Homo sapiens: one gene and its partners. The protein of the gene in region 1 interacts with the protein of each later gene in a pairwise test. Each region holds a gene or a part of one and is shown in the gene's direction. Other genes may lie near its edges. The genes, in order: UBE2W, SNURF, RNF115, LRSAM1, RNF152, AKR1C3 and MKRN1.

The links.
Region 2: the proteins of UBE2W (region 1) and SNURF interact in a two-hybrid assay, tested with the Homo sapiens proteins (one large-scale study listed by IntAct).
Region 3: the proteins of UBE2W (region 1) and RNF115 interact in a two-hybrid assay, tested with the Homo sapiens proteins (one large-scale study listed by BioGRID and IntAct).
Region 4: the proteins of UBE2W (region 1) and LRSAM1 interact in a two-hybrid assay, tested with the Homo sapiens proteins (one large-scale study listed by BioGRID and IntAct).
Region 5: the proteins of UBE2W (region 1) and RNF152 interact in a two-hybrid assay, tested with the Homo sapiens proteins (one large-scale study listed by BioGRID and IntAct).
Region 6: the proteins of UBE2W (region 1) and AKR1C3 interact in a two-hybrid assay, tested with the Homo sapiens proteins (one large-scale study listed by BioGRID and IntAct).
Region 7: the proteins of UBE2W (region 1) and MKRN1 interact in a two-hybrid assay, tested with the Homo sapiens proteins (one large-scale study listed by BioGRID and IntAct).

What each region holds. Positions count from the first base shown.
Region 1 is NC_000008.11:73,823,363-73,826,862, reverse strand, and holds part of UBE2W (ubiquitin-conjugating enzyme E2 W), read left to right. Parts: intron 1-1,613; coding exon 1,614-1,716; intron 1,717-3,500. UniProt on the Homo sapiens protein: Accepts ubiquitin from the E1 complex and catalyzes its covalent attachment to other proteins.
Region 2 is NC_000015.10:24,964,987-24,967,153, forward strand, and holds part of SNURF (SNURF protein), read left to right. Parts: intron 1-2,042; exon of another isoform or gene 2,043-2,166; intron 2,167-2,167.
Region 3 is NC_000001.11:145,738,368-145,741,231, reverse strand, and holds the end of RNF115 (E3 ubiquitin-protein ligase RNF115), read left to right. Parts: 3' UTR 1-2,364; downstream 2,365-2,864. UniProt on the Homo sapiens protein: E3 ubiquitin-protein ligase that catalyzes the 'Lys-48'- and/or 'Lys-63'-linked polyubiquitination of various substrates and thereby plays a role in a number of signaling pathways including autophagy, innate immunity, cell proliferation and cell death.
Region 4 is NC_000009.12:127,454,510-127,458,009, forward strand, and holds part of LRSAM1 (E3 ubiquitin-protein ligase LRSAM1), read left to right. Parts: 5' UTR 1-18; coding exon 19-90; intron 91-488; coding exon 489-545; intron 546-1,066; coding exon 1,067-1,111; intron 1,112-2,806; coding exon 2,807-2,884; intron 2,885-3,500.
Region 5 is NC_000018.10:61,886,508-61,890,007, reverse strand, and holds part of RNF152 (E3 ubiquitin-protein ligase RNF152), read left to right. Parts: intron 1-3,500. UniProt on the Homo sapiens protein: E3 ubiquitin-protein ligase that acts as a negative regulator of mTORC1 signaling by mediating ubiquitination of RagA/RRAGA and RHEB.
Region 6 is NC_000010.11:5,097,414-5,100,913, forward strand, and holds part of AKR1C3 (aldo-keto reductase family 1 member C3), read left to right. Parts: intron 1-20; coding exon 21-137; coding exon of another isoform or gene 138-185; exon of another isoform or gene 186-763; intron 764-1,388; coding exon 1,389-1,466; intron 1,467-1,913; coding exon 1,914-2,036; intron 2,037-3,500. UniProt on the Homo sapiens protein: Cytosolic aldo-keto reductase that catalyzes the NADH and NADPH-dependent reduction of ketosteroids to hydroxysteroids.
Region 7 is NC_000007.14:140,455,506-140,459,005, reverse strand, and holds part of MKRN1 (E3 ubiquitin-protein ligase makorin-1), read left to right. Parts: intron 1-2,139; coding exon 2,140-2,354; coding exon of another isoform or gene 2,355-2,358; exon of another isoform or gene 2,359-2,791; intron 2,792-3,105; coding exon 3,106-3,216; intron 3,217-3,500. UniProt on the Homo sapiens protein: E3 ubiquitin ligase catalyzing the covalent attachment of ubiquitin moieties onto substrate proteins. These substrates include FILIP1, p53/TP53, CDKN1A and TERT.

The sequences.
Region 1 (3,500 bases):
AATGTGCTAGGTTTTTTACGTATGTAGGGTCATTTATCTTTCCAACAACACTATGAGGTGATTATCTTCTGTTTTATTATTGAGGTAGTTAAAACTGGAGAGATAACATAACTTGTTCACACAATGAGTTAAGATTAACTATAACTGCGACTTCAGTATAACTTCAGTTATAACTGTCTAATTTCACTATAAAATATTGTCTCTTGGGTCTGTGGTCGTATCTTTTATTACCATGTATGGTACTCAGCGTGCATTCTTAAAATGAATAGCCATGCTCTTAAGAGTCTGTATACTGTAGCTGATTTCTTTTAGAGAATAGGTACATTTATTATTTTACATAATCCAAGGTTCATAGTATGCGTGGTGATGACTAGAATCCCAACACTGTATTTTCTATCTTCCTTTTGTTTTCTTGTATTTTAAATACAAGAAAGTTTAATAACTGAAAAGTTCAAGAGAATTGCCCAGGTGTACAAGAATTATAAGTGACAGAGCTATAATTAGGAACACATTGTTAATGACTTCAATTCACTTTTGCTTCTAATGCTGCCCTGTTATCTTTGCTGTCATTATCCCTTATTCTTCCCATCTTAAAGAAAATAACAAGAATAGTATATAAACTGTAAATAACACATTTATGTTTATGATTGTTATATATGAAAACAAAGGCTTGCATAGATGGCATAGAAATGGGCTTTATTAAACAATTGAAACATAGTGAGAGATAAAGGAAAGTCACCACAAAGCCTTGCTTAATCATCAGAGTAAGTGGACTGATGTCAATTTAGCTCCCCTTGCCCTGTTAATCTTCTCTAGGATGTTGATGAAAAAAATAAGTCTGACAGCTACGGTTCTCTGTGGTCATTGTCTATACGTATTTCTCCATGGCTTCCACCAGTAATAATCAGAGGCAGTTGCTTTGTTTGATGTTATGTATAGAATACGTAATATCAGCATTGTAGAAATGGTACTTTGAAAAAATAAGGTAGTATAAATCAATTAGGAGGAGCACAGGCTTTGGTGTCAGTGCACCTTAGTTTGAGGTCTGTTTGTTTGTTTATTTTGAGACAGTCTTGCCCTGTAGCCCAGGCTGGAGTGCAGTGGCATGATCTTGGCTCACTGCAACCTCTGCCTCCCGGGTTCAAGCGATTCTCCTGCCTCAGCCTCCTGAGTAGCTGGGATTACAGGTGCACACCACCATGCCCGGCTAATTTTTGTATTTTTAGTAGAGACCGGTTTCACCATGTTGGTCAGGCTGGTCTTAAACTCCTGACCTCGTGATCTGCCTGTCTTGGCCTCCCAAAGTTCTGGGATTACAGGTGTGAGCCACCACACCCGGCCTTGGGTTTTATTTAGTTTGCTTTTTTAGACCTGGCTCTGTCTTTTGCTAGCTGTCTGACCTTGATCTGGTTATTTCACCGCTGAGTGTCAGAGAAGGGGATAGGTCATGAGAATTAACAGTAAGAGAGTTATTGGGAGGCTGGCATGTGCTGTTACACATAACCAACTCTTGTCCTAGTGCTTAGTGTATAGGAAGTACTTGGTGTCCTCTTTTCTCCTCCTTACCCCAGTCTCTATTATCTTAAGTTTTTAATTTGCCTTTTCTATTCTAGGTGGATTGTAGACATGGAAGGTGCACCAGGTACCTTATATGAAGGGGAAAAATTTCAACTTCTATTTAAATTTAGTAGTCGATATCCTTTTGACTCTCCTCAGGTAATTGCCTTGCTTTAAATTTTTTTTTTTGTATTTTTAGATAGCTAAATGCCAGAGATGTTTGACTCAGTAAAAACATATAAATCAGTTATACGTATGTAGATGGATTTGTTATTTCATTATCTTATTTGTCATATAATCAAGATATGAACATTACACTTTATTGGGATTAGGGCTTTACTGCATTTTGCTTCTAAAATTGTTTCATTTGTTGCTTATCCATAAATGCTAACAGAAAAGGGAATAGAAATCTAACCAGGCCTCTAGGCCAGGGGTCCCCAACCCCCATGCTGTGGACTAGTACTGGTCCATGGCCTGTTAGGAGTCGGGCCACACAGGAGGTGAGCAGCATTACTGCCTGAGCTCTGCCTCCTGTCAGATCAGCGATGGCATTAGATTCTCATAGGAGTACGAGCCTTATTGTGAACTGCACATGTGAGGGATCTAGATAGCACGCTCTTTATGAGAATCTAATGCCTGATGATCTGAGATGGAACAGTTCCATCCCAAAACCATCATCCAATCCCCAACCCCATCCATGGAAAAATTGTCTTCCATCACACCGGTCCCTTGTGTCAAAAAGATTGGGGACCACTGCTCTAGGCCATCGGAGAAGTTGACATTTTGGAATAACTGGAGGCACTTCTCCTAGGTCAGATGGTAGAATCACATGGTGAAGAGAAAAGTTCTCTGTTGGAAGGAGTACTATGATTTTGCATTGACATGCTGTCCTTGCAGCCTTTTAGTACAGGAAGGGCAGAGTACATCATCAGATGTTAAATATCTAAACATCAGCACAAAGTCTGATTATTATAATTTGATGCCCAGTGAGTTTAGTTAATAGCTTAATACTTAGACAAGGGATAATGGTGGTAGAGAAATGTTTTTTGAGAGCTATTTAACTATAGTAAATGATTAATCAGGTTAGAGAAAGGAAGACTCTAGGATGACTTCCAGGTTTCTGGCTTGGTAAGATAAGTAAATGAGTTACTATAATTACTTATTCTTCAGAGAATTATAACAAAGCACTTCATTTTTAAAATTTGAGGCTTGTGAGATCCGTTGGCTAAAATGGTAAGACATGATGCCAGCTCTCTCTAGTATTGCTAGCAAATGAGCTATTCTGGAAAATACAACCAAATACCTGAAATATTTCCCAGATACTGAAAATTTTGCTTGTTGGGTGCTGAAATGTACTATTTGGAGGAAAATCATATTTCATTGTCACTTTAAACAATATACCAAACACAGCTTAATCTTTTCTTAGTTATGTAAGAGAAGAGATAAAGTCAGTTATTGTATCATGCTATAAGTAAAGAGATAATTGTTTTAAAGCATAGATTTAAATGGATACTGACTCCTTAAGTTCTAAAATTTTCATATGAGCAGAAAACTACCAAGACTTTTAGGACTTATTTTTATCATTTTCATAAAAGTTAAAGTGAAAGGGTATGTGCTATTGTGACCTCTAGATGTCTACAATAAGCATTTGTAGACTATAATAAAAAGAACAAACATCTTCTCTCCAGAAGATTGTCATCACTTTTGTTGCTTTCTGGCTGGCCAGCATCATTTCTGACTGTAAATGTGTGGAGACAACAGGATCTCAGTCTGTTTTCATCATCAGCCTATTTGTCTACCTTCAACTAAGTTCAATGATGGTATGGGAAGGAAGAATATTTCACACCAATTCAAAAGCTTTTGACTAGGGAGATATTGGGGGAAGGCTTACTCTGGGAGCTTACAGATTTTTCACCAGAGGAAAATAATATTTCTGTAAGCAT
Region 2 (2,167 bases), on another chromosome or scaffold:
TAGAGTTAGGGAAATAGTATAATTTTTCCCCCTTGTGCGTTTTCATTTTGAGAGTAATTGGATTATGGAATGGGTAAGCAGGATTGGTTAACACTGCCTCATTGTCCATGTGTTTAGGATTCTCAGGATTGGTATACTTAGAATGTTATACTAGAAGTGTTCAATATTTACCCATTCATCTCCTACTTCCTACCAAATCATAAGTAGTATTGGGAGGCAGTCTTCCTGGAGGAGTTGTGTGGTTATTAGCCCTAAAGATCAATGAAGGAGGCTGGGTGCGGTGGCTCACGCCTGTAATCCCAGCACTTTGGGAGGCGAAGGTGGGCAGATCACCTGAGGTCAGGAGTTCAAGACCAGCCTGGCCAACATGGTGAAACCTCATCTCTAGAAAAATAAAAAAATCAGCCGGGTGTGGTAGTGTGCACCTGTAATCCCAGCTACTCAGGAGGCTGAGGTGGAAGAATCGCTTGAACCTGGGAGGCAAAGGTTGCAGTGAGCCGAGATGGTGCCATTGGCTGTGCCTGGGTGACATAGCAAGACTCCATCTCAAAATAAAGTAAAAATAAAAAGTTCACTGATTTATTTTAAATTTTTTATTCTGTCTTTCAGTGTATTTGTCACTAAATTAGCTCTTATTCTTTGGGGCTGGATGATGTATCGTGAGTTCGAAGGGAAATTGGAAATTGGAGCTGGAGAGTTGTCTTAATATATTTTATGCTAAGCTTCACATGTCTTTTCAAATTAATATTCTGCACTCTATGAATTAAATTCTGTGTAGGCTGCCTCATTTTCTCAGTCTTTAATCTTCTATTGGGTTACAGGTTAGATCTGAGGGGGACATTGCAATAGAGAATTATCTTACGTTTCAAGATAACATTATATATATTTTTTTTTACTGAAACACTTTTTAGACCTTTATGAATAATAATCAGAAACTTAGTTGTCATTTGTAAACAGAGGTTAGAGTGGAGAATGCCCAAATTAAGATTTATTTATTCAGTGATTAGACTATGAATTAGAGTATAAAGTAGACTATGAATTAGAGTGTGAAGATTTAGAGGTATGTGCAGTGCAATTCTGACTACTTGGAGTTAGTGCAAATTTCACAGTTGTCTAGATGCCCTCCAGAACATTCCCCTCAATGCAGACACCAACTCCAAGCTCCAGGGTTGGCAGGGCACCCACACTTCCGACCAACAGTCTATAGATTCTGAGGTCCTACTATTTTCTCAGACTTTATAATTGACTAAGGTTTTATAAATGACTAGTAGATCTCAAGAAAGTGCTATACTTACTAGTTTTTTTTATAAAGGATACAAATGAACAGATGCATAGAGCAAAATCTGGGCAGGTCCCACACAAATCTTCCCTGTCCTCAGGATGCATTACCTGCACATTAGCGTATATCACCAATCAGGAAGCTCACCAGAACTCCAGATGTCGATGATTTTTGTTGGGGATTCATTATGTTGACAAGATTGAATCACTGGACATGTCACTGAATTCAGTCAGCAACTCTCCTGCCCTCCCAGGAGGGCTTGCTCAAAACCCCAACCCTTTAGTCTTTGTTTGATCTTTTGTGGCCTGGTTAGTCACCATCTTGAGACATCTCATTACCAAGAACTCAGGTGTGATCCTAGGGACCCACCTTGAGTAACAAACACATTTCTTTCACTGGGTAAATTCCAAGGATGTATAGGATGTATAGGTTACTTCCCAGGAACCAGGAGCAAAGGCCAGTTAAATTCTTTATTATACAGAAGCAATTTTAAAATGTTACTGAAAAACCATAGAAAAAAGTCCAATTTCCAAATCCTTACATGCCAACAAGGGCAGCATTGTTGGTGATCCCCCAGCTCCTCACCTCAAGGCAAGCTGTCATTTCCTGTATGTCTTCCTTCTCATCATCAGATTTCACAGCCAGGTTACTGATTCATAGGGGTATGTCGAGGGCTTTTGTCTGGAATTCCCTGCTTACCAGTAGATGATTGGTTTACATATTTTAAGAGCCCTTAAATAGCCCTGGAAGTTCTATATTTCAGGTAGTGACTTGTCAGGAGGATCAATATGAAGGACGGCCTAAACATCTCCCTGCAAATGCTTTAGCAGCATCTCCCTCCCCTCACCCCTGGGGAGAAAGGATTGTTCACACAGGATAATTTGAAAG
Region 3 (2,864 bases), on another chromosome or scaffold:
ACTTAGATCTGTGATCATAGGATGTAAGCCTGTGATTCTTTACTTTTTCTAATAAGAAATACAATTTTCAAGATCCAAAAATTATTAGATTCTTGGCTGGGCATTGTGGCTCATGCCTGTAATCTCAGCATTTTGGAAGGCTGAGGCAGGCAGATCACTTGAGGTCAGGAGTTTGAGACCAGCCTGGGCAGCACAATAAAACACCATGTCTACTAAAAATACAAAAATTAGCCAGGTGTGGTGGCATGCACCTGTAGTCCCAGCTACTTGGGAGGCTGAGGAGGGAGAATCGTTTGAACCAAGGAGGCAGAGGTTGTAGTGAGCCAAGATTGTGCCACTGCACTCCAGGGCAACAGAGAGAGACCCTGTCTCAAAACAAAAACCCCCAAATTATTAGATTCCCTTCCAACAACTTGATAGCCATATTATTAGTATTTTTGATTAAAGAATACATAACAAAAAGCTGCTATGATTTCAGTAATGCTTTTAAGTTAATTTATTAGTCACACCAGAATCTACATCCAATTGAAATATATACAAATATTTGAAAGATATTTATTCAGGCTGAAGATTATGGTATATAGATTCCTTCTGATAACCTCATGGCCTCACAGGTTCAAAACCCGTGTTTGTGAATCACTCATACAGATTGGGGCTAAGATGCGTGTCCAGAAAACCACCTATTATGCATGAAAATTTGTAGGCTTATTTGAAGGCAATTGTATCAACACATTTTGAAAGCCAAGACACAAGTATTTTAAGTTTCTGTTTAACCAAGTCTCGAGATAAGCAGAGTAAATAAACTCTTTAGAAGCAAGACTCAGTTGGTATGTACAAAGTGGGATTGCTTTGTATATATTCCGCTTAGTTTGAGTCAGAGCTAGTAATCTGATGCTCTTAAATGTCTTCATAAACTTGGGCAGTGATGTTTCCTTTCTGTGATTATGTGTCACAGATTTTTATATGTGGACTATAATTAGTATAGTACAATGGCTGAAACTTTTCCTATAGTTGGATATATCTTCTGAGACTTCCAGTGATTGTATAATGTTGAGTAGCTCCAGAAGATTATTTGAATAGTAAAAACAAAAGACATCTCTACCTATGTGAGTTTATTATTTAGTTAGAAACACAGAACTAACTATTTAAAACAGGTAGAGAAAGATTAAGATGAATGTGATGTAGTGGAGAAAGCTTTGGAGACTTTGGAGTCAGAACTCAAATGGCTCTAGGTCCCAAATCCAGACTCTCATTTTGATTCTCAGAACAATTCTGTGGAAAGAGAAGATACAATAGGCAATATCCCTTTTTACAGATAGGTAAACAGAAATAGCATCTCAAAACCTCATTTGCACTGGGTGAGGTGGCTCACGCCTGTAATCCCAGCACTTTGGGAGGCTGAGGCGGGTGGATCACTTGAGGTCAGGAGTTTGAGACCAGCCTGGCCAACATGGTGAAACCCCGTCTCTACCAAAAACACAAAAATTAGCCAGGCATGGTGGTGCATGCCTGTAATCCCAGCTACTTGGGAGACTGAGGCAGGAGAATTGCTTGAACCCGGGAGGTGGAGGTTGCAGTGAGCTGAGATCATGCCACTGCACTCCAGCCTGGGCAACAGAGTGAGACTCCGTCTCAAAAAAAAAAAAAAAAAATTCATTTGCCCAATGACAAATAGCTGGTATGTTGCAGAGCCAGAATTTGAATCCAGGTCTTTTTGCCTCCATGGCTAGTCCTTTTATCTCCATGGGATACAGTCTAAAATCCTTAGTTTGAGGTTCAAGACTATCACTAATAAGAGTCTTACTCATCTACTTCAGCCATATCTCTTTCCGTTCCCACAAACCTTAGCTCCCACATTTGGCAGGTCCTTGCCAAGGAGCACAGGTAAAGTGTCTCTTTCCTTTTAATGGCTCACCATGGAGCTGTAGCTAAATTTCTGTGCTCTTACCCCTTTATTCATGTAGTTCCTCCTATCAGGAATATCCTGCCCACTCTCTGCTTAACTATGACAAGAGGTCATCTGTCCAAAGAGAAAGAAGAGAGTTTGTGGATTTAGGAGAAAAGAAAAGACTCCAAATACTGCTATGGGCATTTATTTAAAAAGAGAAATGACCAAAGAGGTTAACAAGTATTTAGATGAAGCTGGGCAGTTGTAGTCTGTGGTGCTCTTGGTCTGCACAAATCTTCCTCTTCCTCCAGCAGTGCTGTATGGATGTTGTTGAATGTTGAGGTCTGTCTGCATTTTCTCATTTTCATGCCAAGTCAATCACTGGATCTGGCTGTCTTCCTTTCTGTCCTACCTATCTTTGCTTGTTTTCTCTCTCTTTCCTTTGCAGTGTTAAATAAAAATTTATTCCCCCAAAATTTGGTGTTCTCATTTTGTTTGACTTATTTTACTATGTTGATGAAGAGGGAGGAAAAGTTTTTCTGGGGTACAAAAACGCATATATTTATCCGATATTTGAGGACTATACTACCCACTTTGGTGAAAGCTGTTCTGTTTATTTACTGGAGCTTAGGAGGGAAGAAGGCAAGTTTGCCCTGATGGTGAGGAGCAAAGTCAAGGATTACACTGATTTGCCCCAGCTTATATTTCCACAGATTCTTGGTATATTTAGCATCTCTTCCCCTGTGCCCTGTTGCATTCTTCTCTGTGCCTATTGTAATGAGAAAGATACTAAGCCATAGTCAGACTCATCTTGCTGTAGCTGTTTTAAAAGTTTCTTTTGGCACAAGGCTTACAAAGCTGTGGAAAGAAAGTTTGTATTACTGCCTTATAACTTAGAATAGCAACAAAATACCTGATATAATGAAGTCTCACCTGTCCTGAGATGCGTGCGTGATAGGCCCTCATGACTGTAAAG
Region 4 (3,500 bases), on another chromosome or scaffold:
CTCTGGGAAAAGGGAAGGATGCCGCTCTTCTTCCGGAAGCGGAAACCCAGTGAGGAGGCTCGGAAACGCCTGGAGTACCAGATGTGTTTGGTGAGGGAAAGTGGGTTTCCTCTAACTCTATCCCATCTCCTCCTCGGTCCCCATGGAGTAGGCCTCCGCACTGCCCCCAACAAGCCGTGCTCCTTCCCATCTGCCTCCCCCACCCACAGAAGAAATATTTGACTTAGACCCAACAGATGAGGCCCCCTGCCAAGGGTGCTTCTCCCCTGTAGACTGAGCGCACTGTCATTGCTTTTCAGTTCCTCATCCCTCTGGGCCTCAAGCTCTGGGAAAGCAGGGGTCATTGGTTCACCTGCCAAATGGACCAGTGGAACCAGATAGTGTCTATGGTCCTTTGCAGCTGCTTACATTTATGTTCTTTGCCTGGCTTGTCCACTCTGCAAAGGTGTTTTGTCTTAATACTTTTTAAAAATTCTTTTTATCCTTAGGCAAAAGAAGCTGGGGCAGATGACATTCTCGACATCTCTAAATGTGAGCTCTCAGAGGTAAACTGAGGATAGTGTTGGGCTGTGAATTGGATCTGTCCCGTTTTCTTGGATCTTGTGTCCCTAGGAAAGACAGAGGTGGACTGGGGCTTTAGAAAGGCCAGAAGCTCTAGTCACGAGATGTTTCCTTAGATTTTGTTCTCGTCCAAAATAATTGAAGATGATCCTTTGGCCTCAATATAACGTAGTCTCCAAGAGTCAAGGAGTCTAGGTAGAAAATGTACCCATAGACTCCTACATTGCTGGAAGGGCCTGGCATTCTCCAGCCCCTGAAGGGGTTCACAATGGGGACAGGGTGGGTGGGGCAGGGCAGTCTCCTGCCAGCTGACCGAGGGAAGGGCTGGCCACATCCCCAACACCACTGCTTGCCAGCCTTGCCCCTGGGCTCAGCACTGCCACCTGCTGTGGCGTTTTGCCCTTGTTCACCTCCTGCCTGTCTCTTCCTCACGTGAATGCCACTCAGAGAACAAGCTAAAAACTGGCAGGAGGGGAGACACTTACTCTTCTTTATCTTATCTTAGATTCCATTTGGAGCTTTTGCAACATGCAAAGTTCTGCAGAAGAAGGTAAGATGGAGCTTCATCTTCAGAGACTTTCTTGTTGCATGTCTGCTTGTTTGAACCCACAAGGGACTTTGAGGAGCTGTCTTCCCGGCGTAGACACCTCCTTTCTCTCTGCTTCTTATGCTCTTGGCCTGCAGCAGGTGTTTTCACAGATAGGAGAGTAGGCTTTGGGGTTGGACCTTCCTGTGTCACATTCTAACTCTGCCCTCACTGGCTTCATGACTTGGGCAACTTCCTTAAACTCTTACTTCTCAGTTTCTTCCCCTGTGAAATGAAGACATTCATAGTTCTCCTTCCTGAGGTATTGTGAGAATTAAATGAGTGGTAGATAGCTAGATAGAGATAGAAATATACTGAGTGTACATGCCTACCACGTAGTAAAGGCTTATGAACCCCGGTGTTAGTAATAATAGAAACTCACGCCTTTTATTCTGGTCACCCAGGGGAGATTCAGAGGGGAGTGAATGATTTTTCAGCAGAGCATTGCAGCTTTGAATGCAGATGGGTAGAAGCGCTCTAAGTGAAGTATCTAAATGAGAATATGCAAAAAAAAAAAAAAAAAAAAGTGTTCCCTGCCAACAGAGTAGTGAGCTCCTTGGCGCTGGAAGTTTTGTTTGTTTTTTTTTTTTTTTGAAGACGGACGCTCTGCTCTGTCACCCAGGCTGGAGTGCAGTGGTGCAATCTCAGCTCACTGAAACCTCCGCCTCCTGGGTTCAAGCAATTCTCCTGCCTCAGCCTCCTGAGTAGCTGGGATTATAGGCGCCCACCACCATGCCCAACTAATTTTTGTATTTTTAGAGATGAGGTTTTGCCATGTTGGCCAGGCTGGTCTCGAACTCCTGACCTCAAGTGATCCACCTGCCTTAGCCTGCCAAAGTGCTGGGATTACAGGTGTGAGCCACCACGCCCAGTCTGTGCTGGAAGTGTTGGGCCGCAGTCAATGCCTAAGAAAAATGCAGTAGATTGGCCGGGTGCGGTGGCTCATGCCTGTAATCCCAGCACTTCGGGAGGCCGAGGTGGGCAGATCACGAGGTCAGGAGATCAAGACCATCCTGGCTACCATGGTGAAACCCGGTCTCTACCAAAAATAAAAAAAAAATCAGCTGGGTGTGGTGGCATGCGCCTGTAGTCCCAGCTACTCGGGAGGGCGAGACAGGAGAATTGCTTGAACCTGGGAGGCGGAGGTTGCAGTGAGCTGAGATCACACCACTGCACTCCAGCTTGGGCGACAGAGCAAGAGTTGGTCTCAAAAAAAAAAAAAAAGAAAAGGAAAAATAGCAGTAGATGACCTGGACTGAGCCCTGGCCCCTCTGCCAGCCCTGGAAGTTTTGCGCATGAGCTTTTATTTAACATCATGGCAGCCCTGGGAGGCAAGCACTTTATTATTCTCTATTTTCCACGTGAAGACGCTGGTGCTGGGAAGGTTATGATCAGGATGGCTGCAGGGGGATCCCTTCTCAGATGGAAGGAAGATGTAGACCTCTAAGGTCTCTTTCACCCTTGAAGATCCAGGTTTTAAGGAAGGGCATTAGATTCCCCATTGGGAGAGTTCATGATACTGACCCGCATCCCCGTGGTGGTGTCTGGGAGAGCAAGATGGTGGGGCGTGGCACGGCGCTGGGCTGGCTCCCACGCCCTTAGCCTGCCCTGCCTGCTGCTCTTCCTCAGCCCAGCATGGCCGCACATCTCTCCACACAGGTGCTGATCGTCCACACGAATCACCTCACTTCCCTGCTTCCCAAATCCTGCAGCCTCCTGAGTCTGGCAACCATCAAGGTACTGGGCCCTCCTCCCAGGCAGCTGGGGCTCTGCATGGGGTTCCACGCGGCAGCTGAGCGCCTGCTCCTTTTGGGCTGCCTCTTGCATGTCAGAGGGGCCCAATCTACCAGTCAGTCTGGGATTTGATCAGTATGGTTTACTGGATACTTCTGTGGGCTGTGTGTGGGTTAGGGTGACAAAGATGACCAGCCACAGGCCCTGTCCCTGGGGAGTTTACATGCCAGGAGGAAAGCCAAGTGACAGCCTCATGGCGAGTCAGCTAGCAGAGGGCGAGGAGACTGATGGTCCCAGGCAAGAAGGAAGAGGAGGGACGCGCAGGTGATCTGGAAGGACTCCCTGCTGACTGTGAGCTCCTCCCCGGATGGGCTGGGAGGCATTCACAACATGTGGGAGGTGTGAGCCCAGGGTTGTTATGCGCAGACCTGAGCTTGGGAGAGTGATATGCACCTTCAGAGGAGGCCGGCAGCACAGGTGTCAGCCCAGCAGCACAGGCCCAATCTGTTATACTATATTGTTTAGGGAATAATGACAAGAGAAAAGCCTGTATGTGTTCACTACAGATGCTTTCTTTCTTTTTTTTTTTTTTAATATTTTGCACCTGAGTTTGGTTGAA
Region 5 (3,500 bases), on another chromosome or scaffold:
AATTATAATCCTCTCTTTGCCTATTTCAAGTGCATGTTTACTCTGAAGTGAAAGGCCATTAGGTATTTTCAAGGCTGATTCTAGGAGGTTGTGAGCTTAGCATTATGTAATAGAGAGGTGTTACTTACAGACTTTCTCTTCCTCACCATCTGCCTCTTGTTTAAGGCTTCCTGAGTTTGTTTGGAACCGCCCAGGGTAGAAAAAGAGTGGCAATGGGCCTAGGGCCACCCAGGAGGTGGCCTCCTGCAGCAGAGACCACAGGGCAACAGATAAGATCTGAAGGGGGCAGGAATGTGTTTAGGGTAACCTTGGGTCACCCTTTTGTTACTTTGATGTTTAGAAAAAGCAATTTGGGCAAGAGGCTTTTTCTGGTCACAGGACTAGTAGAACACCCAGAGAGTTTAGGGACATTTGTGCTTCCATCAGCAACTGTATTGACTAGGAGGGTGGTGAGTTCTAAAGCCTTCCTTGCCTCACTCTCCCTAAAAAGAGTTGGATGCTATGGAATAGGCATTGCAAGGTGCTCTGGATTCAGCAGTTGGTGGCTTGCAGAGATTTTGCTTTGGGAAGAGCTGTTCACTCATATATCTTTGTTCACATTGTGATAACGGCATGCACGGGTGAGCCATTTTAAAGATTTGATAAATACCTTAAGCATAAGTGTAGAATTTAACAAAATAATATTGCTTTTGGTTCAGTAATCACCTTGGCAAAGTCATTTTTATAAAGATAGCTCTCCAAATAAGGAAGTGGTGTGGTAAACTATGTTAGTCTCCAAGTCACAGTGACTGAGGGGATATCAGTATCAACCTAGGGAGGTTGAGACCACCCGGCTTCATTCAAGTGATAAGATGTAGCACCCAAAGCGTTTCTGAATTGGGAGATGAGCAGCTTGGAGACCAGCAGGAAGAACCAGATATAGACCATCCAAAAACCCATTCAGGGTGCCTGGGGTTGGGCTGAGGGCCAGGCACAGACTGAGGGAGAAGGAAAATGAAAGCCCCGAGGGACTAGTCTTGAACTATATTTGGGAAGCCCCAAAATGCATTTCTATATTTTCTCTGGCCTCTGGGTCCCTACCACTTTAATTTCATACCCAAGTCGGCTGGTCAGGTAGAGGACTCTTGTGGCATGAAAGTGGTTTCTGGCACTGCCCATTGTGACGTCATGGAAACCGGAAAGGAAGAAGGTGTTGGTTTTCCTGCTTCTTTTCCCATGGCTTCGAGAGTTACACTGTGTGATCCAGCAGTCTGACTCCATGATTGAAATCACAATTGGGATAAAGTTGGTAGAGATGCTTCTTAATTTACAGTGGGGTTATATCCTCATAAACCCCTCATAAGTTAAAAATATTGTAAGTGGAAAATGCATTTAATACACCTACTGACATCATAGCTCAGCCTTGTCTGCCTTAACTGTGCCCAGAAATGCGCATTAGCCTACAATGGGGGCAAAATCATGTAACAAGAAGCCTATTTTGTATTAAAGCATCAAATATCTCATGTAGTTTATTGAATACTGTATTGAAAGTGAAAAACAGATTGGTCGTATAGGCACTCAAAGTACGGTTTCTACTGAATGTGTATTGTTTTCACACCATTGTAAAGTCAAAAAATCAAAGGTCATAGGTCAAACAGTTGTAAGTAGGGAACCGTCTGTGCTTGTTACATGCTTAGGGATTTTCAATTTCTAATTGACTCACTGTCATTGTAGGATTTAAAGAGGGAGACCTCAAATAGTGTATCTGTGACCTGCATCTCCTTTGGGTGGTTCTTGATGTCCATGATTTCTTGGCCTAGATCACGTTTGGCTGCTAAGGCCTGGACTACGTTCTTCGTGGAGTTGTGAGGGGGCTGCTTGTGATCGCCTAGGAGTGGAGAGGATGCCTTATTTACCCCTTGATATACTAATGCCTGCATAAATAAAACTCATTGCAAACATCCTGCATGATGAAACTTACTCAAACATCACATAGACTTCCTGGTTACCTGCCTTTCATGCAAAGGAGGGGCTGAGCAAATGAAGATGTGCTGCTGGTGGGAGCAAAGTTATGAGGAAGTAGAATCTCCAAATGCTGTGTTCTGTGCTTGTATTTTCTCTTTCTACAACCTCCTCTCCCCTGCCACTATCGCATTCCCACCTACCAAGGAAGTGTAACTTTCCCGGCTCAGTTCTGATCTAGACATCCAGATAATCACACTTGGTGCACTCCTCACTGAGGTTTGACAAGAATTGAAGAGATTTTGGTAAAAGCTTTGACAGATACTGTAGAAATAGGGAGCATTCTTTTTTTTTTTTTTTTTTTTGAGATGGAGTCTCACTCTGTCACCCAGGCTGGAGTGCAGTGGGGCATGATCTCAGCTCACTGTAACCTCTGCCTCCTGGGTTCAAACTATTCTCCTGCCTCAGCCTCTCGAGTAGCTGGGATTACTGGGATAATTTTTTCTATTTTTAGTAGAGACAGGGTTTCATCATGTTGGCCAGGCTGGTCTTGAACTCCTGACCTCGTGATCCACCCGCCTTGGGCTCCCAAAATGCTGGAATTACAGGCGTGAGCCACCGCACCTAGCCAGGAGCATTCTTCTTACTATTGCTGTTTCTGCTCCTTGACAGATTCACTTAGTGACAGTTGCCACTGCCGCATCTTAGTCAAGAACCTTGTTTCTCTCTGGGCTATGACAATGGTCTTGCTCACTTTCTGGCTTTCCCACCCCACTCCAGTTTGGAAAATGCTGTCACTCTTAGACCATTAGGCCAATTAATCCTTCATCCCCTCACTTAATAACTTTTAGTTGCCCTTGTGGGAGGAAGCTCATATTCTTCAGTTTTGCTTTTCAAGTTTTCCCCAGGTTGACCCCAAACTTCCTTTCCAACCTCGACTTTTGCTCCGCCTGACTTTAAAACTGAACATTAGCTGGGATGGTTAATCCACTGTTGCCCAAAATGTTTTTCATTGCCTCTTTCTTATTCTAGCACATTCTGTGGCCTAAAATGTCCTCTTCCTTCCTCTGCCTCTATCCTATCATCGAAGCCTCAGTTCAGCTCTCAACTCTTCTGAAAAATTTAACTTGATCACATTAGCCTTTAGAAATTCTTTATAATCCAAAGTTCTCTGGCAAAATTGCCTCCATCTCTCATTTCATTCAACATTCATTCATTCATTCTACAAAGGCCACTTGTCATAGATTGTCTTGTATTATCACCTACGATTGAAGTGTCTTTTTCTTTCTGTTTAATTGCAAAGAATAGAAATTCACTCAAGCTTGTTTGCATAAAGGGAGGTGAATTGAAGAGATGTCCCAGGATGTCTTGTCATCAAGCCACATTTCCCAAGAGTTCCAGTGAATGGGACCCTTCCAGTTATCATTCACCCTGGACCTGCTTAGTGCAGGAGAGGGTTGGGGGCACAGTTCCTTCCAAGGGGGCCTGTGGCTGGCTGATGTAGCAGTTGTGACCTGCAATTAGCCTACAATGGGGGCAAAATCATGTAACAAAAAGCC
Region 6 (3,500 bases), on another chromosome or scaffold:
CCATTCTTTAACCTCTGCAGCTTTGGTCCACTTTTCATCGACCAGAGTTGGTCCGACCAGCCTTGGAAAACTCACTGAAGAAAGCTCAATTGGACTATGTTGACCTCTATCTTATTCATTCTCCAATGTCTCTAAAGGTATGCAGTTTGTATGAGCATAAAATTGCGCTTCTGCTGTCATTATAAACATTGTTTATCTGGATAGTTGAACAGAGCTTTTTATTAGGAGGATGTAGGGATTATCACACAGAAGAAGAACCGTAAGTGGAACACCTAATTTCCTTTCTTTCGAGTAAATTTTGAATCCTACTTCTCTAATGCACACCTACAAGAGAAGAGAGTACAGCAACCTCAAAGCCTCTTCCTCAAAAACTTGAAATTACAATAGTCTCTTTCAAGGCACTGTCTTAGTTGTGGCTTTTGAGTCCATCTCTTGGGATGTTCCCAGACACAGAGTTTCATGCAGTTGTGGTGCCCAATAAAACTGCTGCACATGTGATGCACAATGAGTTTCCACCATCTCTCCCCATTTCAAGCTGAAGCAGATTTGGTGGAAGCCACTATGCATGGTTCTTAAATTAGAAACCCTTAATGTGGACTTGCAAAGCTTTATTATTCTGCTGCCTCTTCTTTCACAATAGAGTTTGAAGCTGTATTTAGCCAGGAATTACTGTGTAGTGTATAACTTTTGATTTAAAGTTACAGAAAACTACTCAGGCTAGTTAATGCAAAAGAGTTTACTGAGTTATGTAAAATGGGAAGTCAAAGACATGGCTACATTTAAGGATATGAAATAGTCTACAAAAATGTATCATTTGTCTATTCTTATCTCTAAACTCCAACACTTTTTTTTATTATTGTTGACCCAAACTTTTTCATTGGTGGCGATTATGGCTTTGGAGCAGCTCAAGGCTCATGGTCATCACCATAAGACAACTCCTCTGGGTCTCCCAACTTCTGCTGACCCTATGTGATTCACAGTCCTGCCCAAAGACTATCAACTCTTCAGGTGGTCTGATAATCCTACCGTGTACAAGAGTACAATCCATTATTTTTGGATATCAAGGTATTTCCAAATCAAAGAGAGGTACTTCAATAGAGGAAATTATAAGGGCGGAATAAAGTGACATAAGTCAACTGTGAAACTTGATTAAGACCTAGAAAATGGTCCTTTTCCATGCATATAATATTTGTAAGAGATTAGAGGAAGCCTGTCTCCTGAATACATTCCTTATACCTTCATATGTAAAACACTTAGCACATATCACTTTCTGGAGCATTGTACCACCTGTCTCATGGAGGATTAGTGTCCTTAAAGGTACCTGGGGTTACAGCTATGAGTGGAGAAATTAATTTGTGACATCATTAAAATGACTGCTTCTATTTCAGCCAGGTGAGGAACTTTCACCAACAGATGAAAATGGAAAAGTAATATTTGACATAGTGGATCTCTGTACCACCTGGGAGGTGAGTGCTTGGCGGAGAGGACACAGAGAAGGATGACAAAAAGAGAAAATCTGTTTCCCAGGTTCAATAGGAAAGAATGGAATATGCACCATTAGATCTAGAAATTCAGAAACTTTACAAGAGTAGCTTTGGTGAGATGAAGGGAAAAACACAAAAGGAATGTTTAGAGAGTGGGGCACAAGACTTGGGGGCAAGGAGGACAGGAATCTCTTTCCTTGCTTGTGCATTAATCTATCCAGTTTCCTAAGGAAGAGATAGAAATTCTTACTCTTGCTGCCTCTATCTTCTTCCCCTATTTGCTGTTTGAATTTTTCTTTTTTTGACAATCACTGCTAGCTATTTTCATTGTCATACTTTGAAAGTTGTTGCTCTCACAGTTCTGTCTTGCATTTACCGTGATTTGCAGCCAACTGCACAAATAATTCCTCACAACCCCTTTCTCCACAGGCCATGGAGAAGTGTAAGGATGCAGGATTGGCCAAGTCCATTGGGGTGTCAAACTTCAACCGCAGGCAGCTGGAGATGATCCTCAACAAGCCAGGACTCAAGTACAAGCCTGTCTGCAACCAGGTGAGCTCCCTTGGCCTTCTCTCCTTTCGGTTCTTCATGCCCCCTCTTCCTGTCCTATTGCCAAATATCTGTTTGTTTTGTCCCAGTTATCTTTGTGAAGTAGAAGATTATCTAGAGAGCAAAGCTTCTGTCAAGAAAGGCGTGAAGATTTCTTGTTTGTACCCTGCTTGGAAAAGTATTAGGGAAAAATTGGAATGAGTTTAATGCTGAATCGTGTGTAATATTTAGGGGAGGTCCATTTGATCAGGGAGGCCTGGAATCATCAATTAGAACTCAAGGAAAGGTGGACTTACCTCTAAGCTATGAAAGATGACCAGAAAGTGCATGGGTGAAGGTGATTTGGAGGGAATGGTGTATAGATATGAAGCTAGGAAAAGATGAAATGAGCTGTACGTGAACAGAGAGTTAGAATAAGAGAAGAGAGGTGCTAGGGGTTTACATGGAATTTGGATGTCTGAATGCCTCTTCTTGATGTTTCAACAATTCTTGACCAGGGGCATAGATATACTAAAAATTAGCTGCAGACAATGAAAGTCATCCATGTCAGAAAGAGAAAAATTAGGCCGGGTGCAGTGGCTTACGCCTGTAATCCCAGCACTTTGGGAGGCAAAGGCAGGTGGATCACCTGAGGTTGGGAGTTTGAGACCAGCCTGACCAACATGGAGAAAGCCCATCTCTACTAAAAATACAAAAAATTAGCTGAGTTTGGTGGCACACGCCTGTAATCCCAGCTACTTGGGAGGCTGAGGCAGGAGAATCGCTTGAACCCAGGAGGCAGAGATTGCGGTGAGCCGAGGTCACGCCATTGCACTCCAGCCTGGGCAACAAGAGTGAAACTCCGTCTCAAAAAAAAAGAGAAAAATTACCTGTTTATGGAGGTAACTGTTCACAGTGGATGAAATCAACACTGAGGAACTTTAGCAGAACATAGACCTGACCTATCACTGCCCATGTCTTAGTCTGCTACTTCTCTTTGGGGTCTGTCATCCAATCAGTTGTTTAAACACATCTATTCTATGCATGGTTTTTTCATAGCTTAGGGATAAGTCCTTTTTTCCCCCTGAGTTATTGTTAATGATTCCAGGCCTCCTTGATCAAATTGACTTCCCCCAAATGTCACAAAAAAATTCAAAATTAAAGTCACTCTACCTTTTTGCTAATTTACACTTTTTTATTCTTTTATACAACTTAGAGCCAATGAGTAAAGATCTACCATTGAAATGTGAAGTGTATAAAATTTGTGAATTTGGCCTAATGATACAGTTCCATCATATCCAAATAGAAACATTAAGAAAATGCAGTTTTAATATTAGTCCTTCAATTTTTTATTATGATAATTTTCAAACTTTCAGAAAATTTGATAAAAATAATACACGATTCAACATAACCATTTATATTCAAAATTGTTAACACTTTGCCACATTGCCAAATATTTATGGCAAATGTTTATGTGGGTATATCTGC
Region 7 (3,500 bases), on another chromosome or scaffold:
TAAGTCTTTAGGGAGATGTGTGTGTTATTAGATGTGAGAATCATTATTTGCCCTTTCACAGCATTGTGGGTTTATTTCAGAGAAACATTTGATGAATTGAATGGTTATCAGTGAGTAGGGAAGTTTTCCTTTCTTGGGCTTCTTGGATGCTTTATCAAGAAGTCATATTTCCAGTGAACAAAATTAACTGGGCATGGAGGCATGTGTCTATAGTCCCAGCTACTTGTTAGGCTGAGGCAAGAGGATCGCTCAAGCCCAGGAGGTTGAGGCAAAAGAAAAAAAGAAGTCCTACTTCCAGAAACTCAGACTATAGACTTCTAACATTTTTTTCCTCTTTTAAAAAATAATGTTTCTGAGATTCACATTGAATATGTTTAATCTTTTGAAAATGCACATTTCATTGGTTTTTAGTATATTTACAGAGATGTGCAACCATTACCATTTTACTAATTTTAGGATAATTTGATCATCCTACACCCATTAGCAGTCACTCTTTATTCCAGCCTTCCTCCAGCTCCTGGCAATAACGAATCTGCTTTGTCTCTGGATTGGCCTATTGTGGACATTTCATGTAAATGGAATCCTGTAATGTGGTCCTTTGTGATTGACTTCACTTCTTTCACTTAACATAGTGTTTTCAAGGTTCTTTGTGTGGTTGCGTGTAGCCGTTCTTAGTTTTGATGGCTGAATTATTGTCTTTGTATGGCTAGACCACATTTGTTTTTCCATTCATGAGTTGATGGACACTTAGATCATTTCCAGTTTTTGGCTATTATGAATAAGGCTGCTAGGAACATTTGTATATAGGTTTTTCTGTGAAGATATGTTTTCCGTTACCTAGGAGTGGAATTGCTGGGTTACATAGGAACTCTGCTTTACGTTTTGATGAACTGCCATACTTTTCCACAGTGGCTGCAGGATTTTACATTTCCAGCAGCAGTGTATGGGAGCCAGGGTAGGTTCAGAAGACATTGTGTTAGAAACTTTAACTTTATTGGAGCAAAGTTTGCTTCTAATCATTTCCATCTCTTTTAAATTTCCATCTTTTTAAATGTGGTTTTAGGGTGTGAGGCATGTTATAAGGTAGACATAATTTGATCCCTATCTTCAGCGTACTTTTGTGAATTTAGGCAGGATAAATCTCTATACGTTATATCTATATATTGAGGTAGTAGAACCTACCTCTGAATATATGTATATATGTTTTTTCTTTTAAAGGTTTAGGAAAAGACATGTTTAGTGATGATGTGAGATTATGGATGACATTGCTCTTCTGCAGTGTTATTTTTTTTATTTTTATTTTTTTTTGAGACAGAGTCTTGCTTTGTCCCCCAGGCTGGAGTGTAGCAGTGCAGTCTCGGCTCACTGCAGCCTCTGCCTCCCGAATAGCTGGGACTACAGGCATGCACCACCACGCCTGCCTCAGTTTTGTATTTTTAGTAGAGATGGGGTTTCGCCATGTTGACCAGGCTGGTCTCGAACTCCAGGCCTCATGTGATCCACCCAACCTTGGCCTTCCAAAGTGCTGGGAGTTTTCTGCATTTTTATGTTTCCTATAATCATGTTTTTTATAAGTTAAAATATGATGTCCACACAAAAATTGGTACATGAATGTTCTTGGCAGCATTATTTATAATAGCCCCAAAGTGGGCTAATCTAACCTAACCTAAGTGTGCATCAGTCTATCAAGCTGAGTAGTTGAAAAATCTCGATGAAGTTGTTTTTCTTTAAAGGCATAAGAGAGTTTACGTGCCTGTCACCCTTATTTTCCGACAGGTTTTAACTAGGGTCTTAACCTCATGTAGAAACCAGAAATAACAAACAGTATGGAAAACCGTCTTTAATGTAGTTGAGCTCCAGGTTTGGGGTAGAGAAAATTGGGTAATTTTTCAGTTCCCGAAGTTGAGTCCTCATAGTTTGATTTTCTAGTATTGTTAAGTACCACCGCAAAAACAAACAAACAAAAAAAAAACACCACACCTGTGTTTACTTGTCAGCAAAGCTAATTTTCGTGTCAGCTTGGGAACATTGTTTTTTCAGTTGACTATTTGATTCTTTGACTGTGAATCATTAACTGTTGCTCAAGTTTTTCAGGGTTCAATGACTGGATTCCACTTGTTCTCTCTCCACCTTCTCTAGTCGTGCATTGAGGCCCATGAGAAGGACATGGAGCTCTCATTTGCCGTGCAGCGCAGCAAGGACATGGTGTGTGGGATCTGCATGGAGGTGGTCTATGAGAAAGCCAACCCCAGTGAGCGCCGCTTCGGGATCCTCTCCAACTGCAACCACACCTACTGTCTCAAGTGCATTCGCAAGTGGAGGAGTGCTAAGCAATTTGAGAGCAAGATCATAAAGTGAGACTCCTCCCCAGTCTTCATTTGTGCTTTCTCTTTTGGGGAAGAATTTAGTAACTTGTGCCAACTTTCAACCAGATGGACCGCATTTAAATGCATGCATTTTATCTTGAAACTGGGATATTCTAATGGGGATTTCTTCTTTGTATTTCAGCTAGCTTCTAGGTTAGTTGGTCTATCTACTTTTATTTGAATGAGGAAACCCTGTGTATCAGTTAGAATCTTCGTGCTTTTTCTGAGGAGATTGTGTTTAATGGATTATTAGCCAGTTTAGGCTCAGTGAACAAACTGATCTAGCTCTGAATGTATGTTTCCTGACGTTTTACATTTCCACTTTCCTATTCCATTCATTAAGCTAGCCAACAATCCACCATCCTTTAAAGATTGTTCTCATAACTGAACAAAAACCACATAATCTAAACAGAGCAAAGCTACAAGAAATAAATTTATTTAAACGAAAGAAAAAGGAGTCTGTGTGAAATGTCTTCTTTTGTTTTTGTTTTTTACCTAAGTTATATTTTTCAAAAAAAAAAAAAAAGAACTGGCTAGCCCTTGAGTTGGATTTATAAAGGAGGTTGCCTTGCTTGAAAGAAATGGTCAGTTGTGTGACAGTATGTGGAACCCTTTCAGGAAATGCCCACGTGCCTTTCAGTTAAGTCTTTAAGTCTGGAGGCGACACACCAGGGTGTGTCCTTGAAGAGTGGGCCTGTAAAAGGGGAATTTGCATTGCAGCCTGTTCATTGTTTCCCAGGTCCTGCCCAGAATGCCGGATCACATCTAACTTTGTCATTCCAAGTGAGTACTGGGTGGAGGAGAAAGAAGAGAAGCAGAAACTCATTCTGAAATACAAGGAGGCAATGAGGTATGAGCACTGCAGCCTTTTCTCAAGCGAAGAGCCCAACAGAGCTTGGGTTCACTTTGAAAAGAATGGTGCTGCATTATACACTCCTACCTCCTTCCTACCCTTCTTTGACTTCCCAGGACAGTTTATTTTGTCACCCTGATAACATCCAGTATATATCTTGCTATAACACAGTCCTTGGGGTCCATGCCAAGGGACTGTGTTATAAAGAGGTCTCTACTGTTGACAAGTAAGGCCCCATGAGTGGGGTTCTACCTTATTCTGAATCCGTGTCATAGCTGTCC